Linked DNA regions of Homo sapiens: region 1 is linked to region 2. The links come from fine-mapping of genetic effects on gene expression. A gene starts in region 2. The other region holds a variant in brackets. All regions are shown on one strand. Distances are from middle to middle.

Region 1 (5,374 bases), 64 kb before region 2:
TCATTGGGTTGTTCACTTAGGATCTGTGCATTTTGCTGTACGTAAATTAAACCTAAAAAAAACCTGACAACTGTGAAAAGTCTAGATGATGGGATGTCTGTTTTGATTTAAAAAGTGCAAAAAGAGGGGCCAGGTGCAGTGGCTCAAGTCTGTAATCCCAGCACTTTGGGAGGCCGAGGCGGGCGGATCATTTGAGGTCAGGAGTTTGAGAGAAGCCTGGGTAACATGGTGAAACCCCACCTCTACTAAAAATACAAACATTGGCTGGGTGTGGTGGCATGGGCCTGTAATCCCAGCTACTAGGGAGGCTGAGGCAAGAGAATCAACGTGAACCCAGGAGGTGGAGGTTGCAGTGAGCCAAGATGACGCCACTGTACTCCAGCCTGGGTGACCGAGCAAGACTCTGTCTCAAAAAAAAAAAAAAAAAAGTGCGAAAAGAATCACAGCATCTTAACATTGATGGAGTGAACAATCCCACCTCTCCATTTTGTAGCCTAAGACAGTGTCGTCAGGGAAGGAATGACCCAAGCTCGAAGGGCCTGGCAGCCAGGTCTCTGGTCTCCCAGCACCAGAACTATATAACCAACTCAGTTCCTTCCAGGGTAAAGACCACCTGCTCTCCCTGGGCGCCTGAGAAAAAAAACGTGAAGCCTGGGAAACCGTCTGCAGGGGGCCACTGAGGCGGCTCCACGGAGGAGACAATCAGAACAATGGGAGACAAAAGCCCCCTCGGAGGAAAAGGCTGGCCTTAGAGGGCAGGTGGCCCACTTCAACCAAGAGAGGCAGGCACAAAGGAAGGGGCTGTGAATGGGAGGCGCGCCCGGCCTGCCCCAAGACCCCCTCCTTCCTCCCAGACCCACCTGCTCATCTCTTTCCTTGGCCTATCCTGACAAAAGCAAAAGCCGAGGGCTCTTTCAACTTCCAATTAGTTTTTCAAATAAAATAACGACTGCTGGGACCTGCTGCTACTTGTGGTTTTGGAGGTGAATGCAATTATAGGGGAAAAACCACCATAGCAACAACTCCAGTGCTCCATACCATTAACCACGGCACGAATGGCGTCGGAGAGACTCCACTTGCCCCGCAGAGGAGCTGGGAGCTTCCCACTCCGGGGAGGGTCCTACTTAAGACGGAGTGCTATTTTTCTCCCTAAAGAAATGCTCTAATCAACGGGGGACTTGTCGCTTTTAATGATAATCTCTTCTGTTTGTATTAACTTAGAGTTCACAAAGAGGCTTCCCATCCATTACTTCATTTGTTCTCTACAACAGGCCCCTGAGGAAGGCAGGGCAGGGCACATTGGCCCAGCTGGATCCAACTAGAGGTCAGATTCAACTAGAGTCGCTCCAGGTTGGCAGGACGGGACTGATGGGGCGGGGAGGGAAGGCAACACTCTCTCGAAAAGGTTGCTTTAAGACTCCAGGCCCCTCAGGAAATGCTGGGGAGGAAATGAGGGAGCTGGGGTGTCGAGTAACTTGAACTAACAGGTGAATGTAGACCTGGTACAAACTGTTGACTGGGCTCCTGTTAACACCACCTGGGAAATAATAATGATGACAATATCTGCGCTATTGGGAGCAAACACTGACTCAATGCTAAGTGTCAGGCACTGTGGTATGTGTTGTGGCTGTGGCCTCCTCTAATCCCTATAAAACCCTCAGAGGTATGATCCCCATTTTTACTGATGGGAAACCAAGGCCCAGAGAGGTAAAGGTACAAAAGGACACACAGCTAATGGGGGAACTCGAAGCAGCTCTGACTCTAAAGCTGGCATGTCTTGTACTCCTCAGAGAAGGCCAGGCCCAGGCGCTACTGCAGCGAATCATTTGAGTGATGAATCCAGTGGATTTCATGAATTATAAGAGAGAGGCCTGCTGTCAGCTCTGGACTCCCAGACTGTCTTGGCTATAGCAACCAGGTTATTCCCCTGCAGCACTGCTCCAGCACTGAGAGCCGAGTCCCTTTAAGAGGCTTTGAGGCCAGGTGCAGTGGCTCCTGCCTGTAATCCTAGAACCTTGGGAGGTCGGGGAGATTGCTTGTGCTCAGGAGTATGAGACCAGCCTGGGCAACATTGCAAAATCCCATCTCTACCAAAAATACAAAAATTAGCCCAGTGTGGTGGCACGCGCCTGTAGTCCCAGCTACTCCAGAGGCTGAGGTGGGGGGATCACCTGAGCCTGGGAGGTTGAGGCTGCAGTGAGTCGTGATTGCACCACTGCATTCTGGCCTGAGCAACAGAGCAAGACCCTGTCTCAAATAAAATAAAAAATAAAAAATAAAAAAAAAGGCTTTGCCCAGTGGGCAGGGTCAGACAGACAGCATCTGCCTCTGCTATACCC[C/T]AAAATAAAACTCAGGCTGGCCAGGCGTGATGGTGCATGCTTGTAGTCCCAGCTACTCAGGAGGCTGAGGCAAGAGGATCCCTTGAGTTCAAGGTCAGCCTGGGCAACATAGCAAGACCCCATCTCTTTGTTTGTTTTGTTTTAAAAAAGGTCCTAAGAGAAAAATCAGTCCCCTTTACCACAGCCCCTAAAAGCCAAGTTTGTTCTGGCTTCTATCCCAGCGAGGATGCCGTTCCTGCCAGTGACACCCTGGCTGCTTGGCCTGCTTCCAGTCAGAATGTGCCGTGCTCTTGCCCCAGAGCCTCCATGCTGGCTGATTCTCTGGCCGGAGTGCTCTTCCTCAGCTTGGCATAGGCGCCTTCTCATTCTTCAGGTCTCAGCTGAGACCTCCCAAGCCATCAAGGTAAGAACTGCTTCCTCTGAGGCCCTTCTCACATGTGTGATCACTGCTTCCTTTCTCCCTCAGCTGGGTGCCCGTGGGCTGTACCTGGACCAAGGGAAGGGACTGGATCTGTCTTGCTCCCTGTGGTAGCTCTGGACACAGAACACAGCCTGGCACATGGCAATGTTTACTGGGCTCTGTTCTCCAGCTCCCATCTGAGTCTGCAGGCCAGCCCCAAACCAGCCCGGGAACCCCTTACTTAGCTGTGCCAGCCGTTTCTCCAAAAAGCTGTTTCCCGACTTCCTTCCTTCCAGCCACTGGCTGTCCTTTGTTCCCAGTGACCAGGACACCCAGCAGCCTTTGTACTTCCACCCTCAGGCCCTACTACCCCTGCTCCACACCACTGTCCACCAGCCCCGCACCCAGTCTGTCTTCCAGGCCCGCACAGGTCTGGTGATAGGTGGCAAGTGTCCCTGCTCTCATCCCACACGCTGCTGGGGCTCTCTTTCCTCTCCAGTCTGAGCGGCTGAGGTCCCAGCACACCTAAGTAGGAACACTAGGAGCCGCCCAAGAGCAACAGGAAACCACCATCACCCCTTCCCCTCCGAGTGGGATAAGAAACTAAAAAGTGGAGGATCCCAAAGGTATATGCCTATGGGAGCCAGGCAGGTATCAGAGAAGCACAGTCGCCAGGTGGACTGGCGCAAGTGTCCTGTATGTGGACACCTGTGCGGGGAGGGGCTGACAAGCTGGAGCTTGCAGGCTCCATCCAAAGGGACGAGCTGCTATTCAGTGTCAGCTGACTGCTGCCGTTCAGGAATCAGGCCCGCCGTGGACAGCTCTAGTTTTCTCTTTCAGGAGAATCCAGAATCCAAAACCAAGATTTTTATATAAAATCTGTCTTCAAATGTTGGCAACTTACTCAATTTTTAAAAAAACACTACAGATCACAAGTTTGCAACCTCTGGGAAGGAGAAGCCTCCTTCCCATCTTAGAGGCATCCCTGTAACTGCCCACATCATCCTCTTACCTATAGGATCCCATTCAGAACGGCATAGAGTTCTAGAATCTTCTTTCCCTTTTTCCCAATCAAAATCCCAATTTCTTCACTGTAGTAAGGTCCAGCTAGTTGGGAAGCAATCTGATTAAAATAAAACAACTTCCAGACCCCCAATTCAATAAATACTATGAGGATTACCATATTTCACAAGTTAACTAAACTTATTATGTTTCAATTAATATTAGGTTGGTGCAAAAGTAATTGCAGTTTTTGCCATTCTAGAACTAGAGGCAATGGGCCAAGGCACATAACCGTAGGTCAATCAGGAAAGATGCCAAGTGCTAAGCTGCGTCAGCATTCAACTCCTTTAATCCTATGAGGTAGGTAGTTATCATCTCTCTTTTACAGAAACACAAAAGGAGGTTTACGGAGGTTAAACTACTTGCCCAAGGTCCCTCACCCTAGTAAGTGGCAACACTAGGTTTGCCTGGAACCAAAGTCTACGCAGTCAACCATGCTATGCAGTATTACTTCTCTCTGTGCTATTATATAACCTCATGTAATGGGCACAACTTCAGAGGGGGCATTCTTGAGATGTGGCCTTCTAGACTAAAGTCACTCAAGTGGTCAGTGCTATGGTTTGAATTTGTGTCCCTTGAAAATTCATGTTGCAACAAATCTCCATGCAAGTCTTTTTTTTTTTTTTTTTTTTTGGAGATGGAGTCTGGCTCTGTGGCCCAGGCTGGAGTGCAATGGCTCACCGCAACCTCCGCCTCCCAAGTTCAAGCTGTTCTCCTGCCTCAGCCTCCCAAGTAGCTGGGATTACAGGCATGCACCACCATGCCCACCCCTTGGCTAATTTTGGTTTTTTAGTAGAGACAGGGTTTCACCATGTTGGCCAGGCTGGTCTCAAAACTCCTGACTTCAAGTGATCCCCCTGCCTCGGCCTTCCAAAGTGCTGGGATTACGGACGTGAGCCTCCATGCCTGGCCCCAAGACAAGAGCCTTGAGCAGAGGTCCTAGCTGCAGTCCACCTGCACATTCCTGTTGTTTAGCTGTGTTCTTGCCAAGTCACACTCAGTATCTAACCTAACACAGAAAGATTCTCAAAAATGGGACTCAGCTCACAGAAAATGTTAAAGGGGATAAAAACCTATCCCCTTGGACCCCTAGAGGTCCAAATGGGGCCTTCAGATACCAACAGGGCTCCTATGCAGACAGCTGGTGCTCACTGCTGGAGAAGAAAAAAGGAAGCTGGCCTTTCCAGGCAGTTCTCAGTTCTGTTAGGAGCAAGGGGCAAGAAGGACCAAGAAAGGCCTGGAGAAATATGCTGGCATCAACAGCATTTCCAACTAAGTCCTCATGTCATATACCCAAGGACCCCACCACCCAAAAGTATGAGAATAAGCTCTCAATCAGGCCTTTGTTCCTATTGTTACCCTCTTTATTCCAAAACAATTACACATTTCAACTTTTCAAAAGCAACATCTGGGTAAGTTAGGAATATTCACAGCTTCTTACACAGTGTCAGAGAAAGAGACTATCTGAGCTCACCAGGTATCTGCTGTGTGTTGGGGAAACTGAAAAACAAGCAAAAGTATAACTACAATCTGGACTTTTTTCTTTTTTAAATAAAGTTTTTTTTTTCCATTT
Region 2 (5,321 bases):
CTTTGGGAGGCCGAGGTGGGCGGATCACTTGAAGTCAGGAGTTCAAGACCAGCCTGGCCAACATGGTGAAACCCTGTCTCTACTAAAAAGACAAAAATTAGCCAGGTGTGATGGTGGGTGCCTGTAATCCAAACTACTTGGGAGGCTGAGGCAGGAGAATCACTTAAACCCAGGAGGCGGAAGTTGCAGTGAGCCGAGATCGCACCACTGCACTCCAGCCTGGGTGACAGAGTGAGACTCCATCTCAAAAAAATAAAAATAAATAAATAAAATTAAATTAAAAAAAGAAAAAATCTATCACGTGGTGTATTCATCAAATGTATACTGAGCTACTATGTGCCACACACTACTTTAGGTGTTAAAAATACAGCAGGAAACAAAAGAAACAAAACTCCCACCCTCAAAGAGCTTCTATTCTAGTGACAAAAGACATCACATGAAATAACATTATTTATCACATTACAAAGTAAGTGCTATGGAAAAAAATAAAGTACAGAAGAGATATTTGGGAAGGGCTGCATTTTAAATACGGTAGTCTATGAAGGACTAAGAAATAAACATATTGAGTACAGATCTGAAGAAGAAGCAAGTCATAAAGATATCTGGTGGGAAACTATGCTAAGAAGAAAAACCCAATATGGCCAGGCGCAGTGGCTCACACCTCTAACCCCAGCACTTTGGGAGGCCAAGGCAGGGGGATCACCTGAGGTCGGGAGTTCAAGACAAACCTGGCCAACATGGTGAAACCCCATGTCTACTAAAAATACAAAACATGAGCCGCACATGGTGACTTGGCCTGTAATCCCAGCTACTAGGGAGGCTGAAGCACGAGAATCACTTGATCTGGGAAGCAGAGTGGGCAGTGAGCTGAGATCGTGCCACTGCACTCCAGCCTGGGGCTCTGTCTCAAAAAAAAAAAAAAAAAAGAAAAGAAAAACCAAATGCAAACATTCTGAATCAGGAGTATGTACACATACAGTGTTTTTTGAGATCAGCAAGGACAGTACAGCTTGAGTGGAATAAGCAAAGGGTAAGAAGTAGATGAGGTAACAGAGGTAGCAGAGGACAAATCCAGAGGGCCTTGTATACCACCGTAGTGGAAGCCACTGGAAAGTTCTTTTTTTTTTTTTTAGACAGAGTCTCGCTCTGTTGCCAGGCTGGAGTGCAGTGGCGCGATCTCGGCTCACTGCAGCCTCCGCCTCCCGGGTTCAAGCGATTCTCCTGCCTCAGCCTCCCAAGTAGCTAGGACTACAGGCACGTGCCACCATGCCCAGCTAATTTTTGTCTTTTTAGTAGAGACGGGGTTTCACCATGTTGGCCAGGATGGTCTTGATCTCTTGACCTCGTGATCCGCCCGCCTCAGCCTCCCAAAGTGCTGGGATTACAGGCGTGAGCTACCGCACCCGGCTGGAGACCACTGGAAAGTTCTAAGCAGAGGAGTGATTTGACTTACACTCTAATGGTATTACTGTGTTGAGAATAAACAATACTGTGTGGAGAACAGACCATGCAGGTGCAAGGACAGAGCAGGGGACACCAGTTGGGAGACTACCGCCATAATCCAAGCCAGAAGATGATGGTGGCCCAAACCAGGGCAACAGCAGTGAACATGATGAGAAGTGATGAGAGTTAGTCTGGCTAGAATTCAAAGTCAAAGCCTATCAGAAACTGCTAATGGACAGAAAGACCTAAGAGAGAGCGGAGTCAAGATACTAATGCTGAATCCCCAATGCCTTGTGCACAGGCGGGTACCCAATATATGAAGATCTAGTGAATGGCTGCGACTAGCATTTTCCCACCTAGACCGTAAATTCCCCTAAAACAGCACCTGTGTCAGAATCCTAATCTTCTCACTCCATGTTAACGAGAGCAGTAACTTTTCTGACTAAAAGTTGAGCACTTAATATGTTAGGTATGCCCACGCTATGCTGTGCTTTGCACACACCAAATCATTAAATCCTCACAACATCTAAGCAAGGTGGCTATTTTCTGCATTTCACAGACCAGGAAAGTAAGGCTCAGAAGTAGTTACCTGCCCTAGGACACATCACTGAAAATCAAACTTCAGGCAATTTGAATCCAAAGTCTGCTTTTAACCACTTTACTATCCTGAACTTCTCAAATAATGAAACGGTGAGCCACTGACTCATTCATGTGTCACCCTGGGCAAGTAAGTTCCCTTCCGTGGGATTCCAACTTCTCATCTGTCAAATGGTAGTAACAAGAGTACATGCTTCCAAAGTTACGATGAGGCTACATGAAATTCCACCCTGCACAGCGTCTACTCAGTAACTTCCAATGCAGTTAACTTAGTTCTTACCTAGGGCCATGCACTGTTCTAAACTAAGCACGAAGATTATTTCACTTAATAAAGCAACTCAACGAGGCAGATAACGTGACTAATTTGACTAACTTATTTTACAGATGAGAAACTGAGGTGTAGAGGGGTTAAGTAACCTGCTTTGGGTTACACAATGAATACGTGGCCGACTGCAAGTTTGCACCTAGAGTGTCACTTGAGAACTTATGCTCCAGGCTCCCAGAGAGAAGTGAGGGTTTTCTTTGCCCCTTTCACTGAATGGGAAACTACAGCACAAAGAAGGACAATCTGCCCAAAACCTCACACGGAGTAAGGGGCAGCGCCGGGACCAGAACCTTAGGCCGCCTGGCCCAGAAGCCCGCGCGAGTGAAATGAATGAGGCCAGACCTAGGCTAAGCGCGTCCGCGGTCCCCACGGCTGAGCCTCGGGGCGACCCGTAGCTCCGCGCTGCACCCCTCCCCCAGGCACCAACCCCGCCAGGTCGCGGGCACTCCCACCAGCTCGCAGCCCTCCTTCGGACCCTCGATCCGAGAGCGCCCCAGCCAGAGCTTGTGCCCATGCCCCTGTCCCGCAGGGGAAGGGGATCCCGCCTGGCCGGCTCTCGAGCGGCGACTAGTAACCTCCCGCGGGCGACAGCCCTCTCCCCAAAGCCACGCGCAACTCCTCACCCGGCGGCGCCATTCCTCCGAGCAGGTCCCGCCGGAGTCCGAGCCGCGGGCTGACTTCCGCTCGGGAAAGTGGCTCCAAGAGCCCGCCACAGGGGACGCCAGGGACTCGCGGCAGGCTCTGCGGGCCAGGATGAGTTCTAAGCACAGGTCAGTGTCCGCGGCCCCGCTGAGCTTCGACGCTTCCAGCAGCCGCGGCCGGGATCCCAGTCCTCCCGCTCACAGGGCCTTGCAGTTCCCGAGGACAGACCCGCCTCTCCCCCGCGCCCAGGCCCACTTGGAACCGACCGTCTCGCAACGCTCCTATTCCGGGAGCTACCGGGACGCGGTTGGGCCAGGCCTCGGGGTGGGCCCGAGACGGGGCCGCTTCTGATTGGCCTGTCTGCTGTCACTCACTCGTCTTTCTGCTGCCCGGCCCATTTTAAAGGAACAGGAAGGGTCTCGTCGGGAGGGGATAGCTTAGAAGGGATTTTTTTTTCCTCTTTAGAAAATTGTGGCAGTTTCTGGCCGGGCGCAGTGGCTCACGCCTGTAATCCCAGAACTTTGGGAGGCCGAGGCGGGCGGATTACCTGAGGTGAGGAGTTCGAGATCAGCCTGGGCAACACGGTGAAACCCCGTCTCTACTAAAAATACAAAATTAGCCGGGCGTGGTCACACATGCCTGTAATCCCAGCTACTCGGGAGCCTGAGGCAGGAGAATCGCTTGGACCTGGGAGGCGGAGGATGCGGTGAGCCAAGATCGCGCCATTGCACTCCAGCCTGGGCAACGAGTAAATCTCCGTCTCACCAAAAAAAAAAGAAAAAGAAAATTATGTCAGTTTTTTCCAAAGATTATCAGTGGGGTTGTTAATAACTGACCTACGAGTGACGTTTTATCTGATTTGCAGAGCAATGCAGTGACTCATAGAGAACATATTAGGCCAGTTTTACAGGCTCAACATGGAGGTGGCTCATCCAGGAACACCGCTCTAATAACTAGCGCCAACTACTGAATGTTTACAGTATAACCCGACACTGTGCCGAACGCTCTACAAGCATTATTTCTTTTCTTTCCTTTTTTATTGATACGGGATCTTGCTCTGTCGCCCAGGCTGGAGTGCAGTGGTGCGATCACAGCTTACTGCAGCCTCGACATCCTGGGCTCAAGCAATCTTCCCTCCCGCCTCAGCCTCCGGAGTAGCTGGGACTGCTGCCTTGCGACACCACGCCCAGCTAATCTTTAAAATTATTTTTGGTAGATACCGCGTCTCGCTTTGTTGCCCAGGCTGGTCTGGAACTCGGGCTCAAAGGATCCTTCGGCCTTAGCCTCCCAAAGTGCTGAGATTACAGGCTAATCCCATTTTAAAGAGAAGGAAACAGATTTGAACCTAGGCAGCTGACTCCAGAATCTGTGCTTTTAACTACAGTTTTATGAACATATAAAGTATGCACAATATAACTCTTATTAACGTTATTATTGTCCCAAATGTTATCCCGCATGGGAGAGAGTCAGTTCTTTCTGTGTCTGTTATGATAGCCACTAGCCTTATGTGGATATTTAAATTTGAATTTAAATGGATTAAAATTAAGTAAAATTTAAAATTCAGTCTCTCATTTGTACTAGCCACATTTCAAGTGCTCAGTAGCCACAGATAACTAGTGGATATCAGATTGGACCACTCAAAATTATAGGACATCTTCATTATTGCAGAAAGTTCCATTGGGCAGTGCTGATGTAGAATATATAAAGAATTCTCCCAGCTCAAGAATAAGACAACCAACCAGTGGTGTGCTGGAGCTGTCTCATACTATCTTGAGAGTCCATTGTTAAATTTGCAGTAATTTTGCAAATTGGTTAAATACAGCCATTTAGAAAATTATATCAATTTAGGATGAAATAAAGTATATTGAAAACAAAACTCATTATTTTCTAATTATTTCACTACATTTTACGTTTTGTGTGCTTTTGTGGTTGCTTATATCTGTTGTAACTGTGTGGTGGAAATATATGACAGTATGCCATTGAACATCTCTTCCCAAGGTAGTATTGGTAGCTTGATTTTGGCCATGATGGGAGTATTTACACCACAGACTTAGCATATGCAGCCAGGAATGGTGGCTCAGTCTGTAATCCCAGAGCTTTTGGGAGGCTGAGGTAGGAGGATCACTTGAGTCCAGGAATTCGAGACCCACCTGGGCAACACAGCAAGACCTGCCTCTACAAAAAAAAAATTTTGATTAGCCAGGTGTGGTGGCTCGCATCTGTGGTCCTAGTGACTAGCTGTGGACCACAGATGGGAGCCACCACACCTGACTAATGAAAAAGAAAAAGACCAACAATAGCAAATGTTGGCAAG

Which allele goes with the higher level. Alleles are on the strand shown, and positions count from the first base shown. SD is a standard deviation of normalised expression in the study named.
For the expression in spleen of the gene that starts at base 2,810 in region 2, allele C in region 1 goes with a higher level than allele T (moderate effect, 0.69 SD a copy in GTEx).

The links. PIP is the estimated chance that this variant, and not a neighbour inherited with it, causes the effect.
Region 1: its variant is the best candidate, but not a certain one, in a credible set for the expression of MROH8 in spleen (GTEx, PIP 0.59).

What each region holds. Positions count from the first base shown.
Region 1 is chr20:37,241,393-37,246,766 of GRCh38, reverse strand. RPN2 (ribophorin II) reads right to left here. Exons shown (of 17, transcript NM_002951.5): 17 at 5,148-5,374. Among named protein-coding and RNA genes, the nearest start is that of GHRH, 18 kb to the left of the region's middle. The variant C/T (reference allele first, on the strand shown) is at 2,340.
Region 2 is chr20:37,177,037-37,182,357 of GRCh38, reverse strand. It overlaps MROH8 (maestro heat like repeat family member 8), which reads left to right and starts at 2,810. Exons shown (of 25, transcript NM_152503.8): 1 at 2,810-2,969; 2 at 2,971-3,135. The coding sequence starts at 2,878. It overlaps RPN2 (ribophorin II), which reads right to left and starts at 3,028. Exons shown (of 17, transcript NM_002951.5): 1 at 2,989-3,028. The coding sequence starts at 3,001. RefSeq lists a silencer at 2,753-2,802 and enhancers at 2,353-2,910, 2,923-2,972, 3,323-3,402, 2,911-3,470.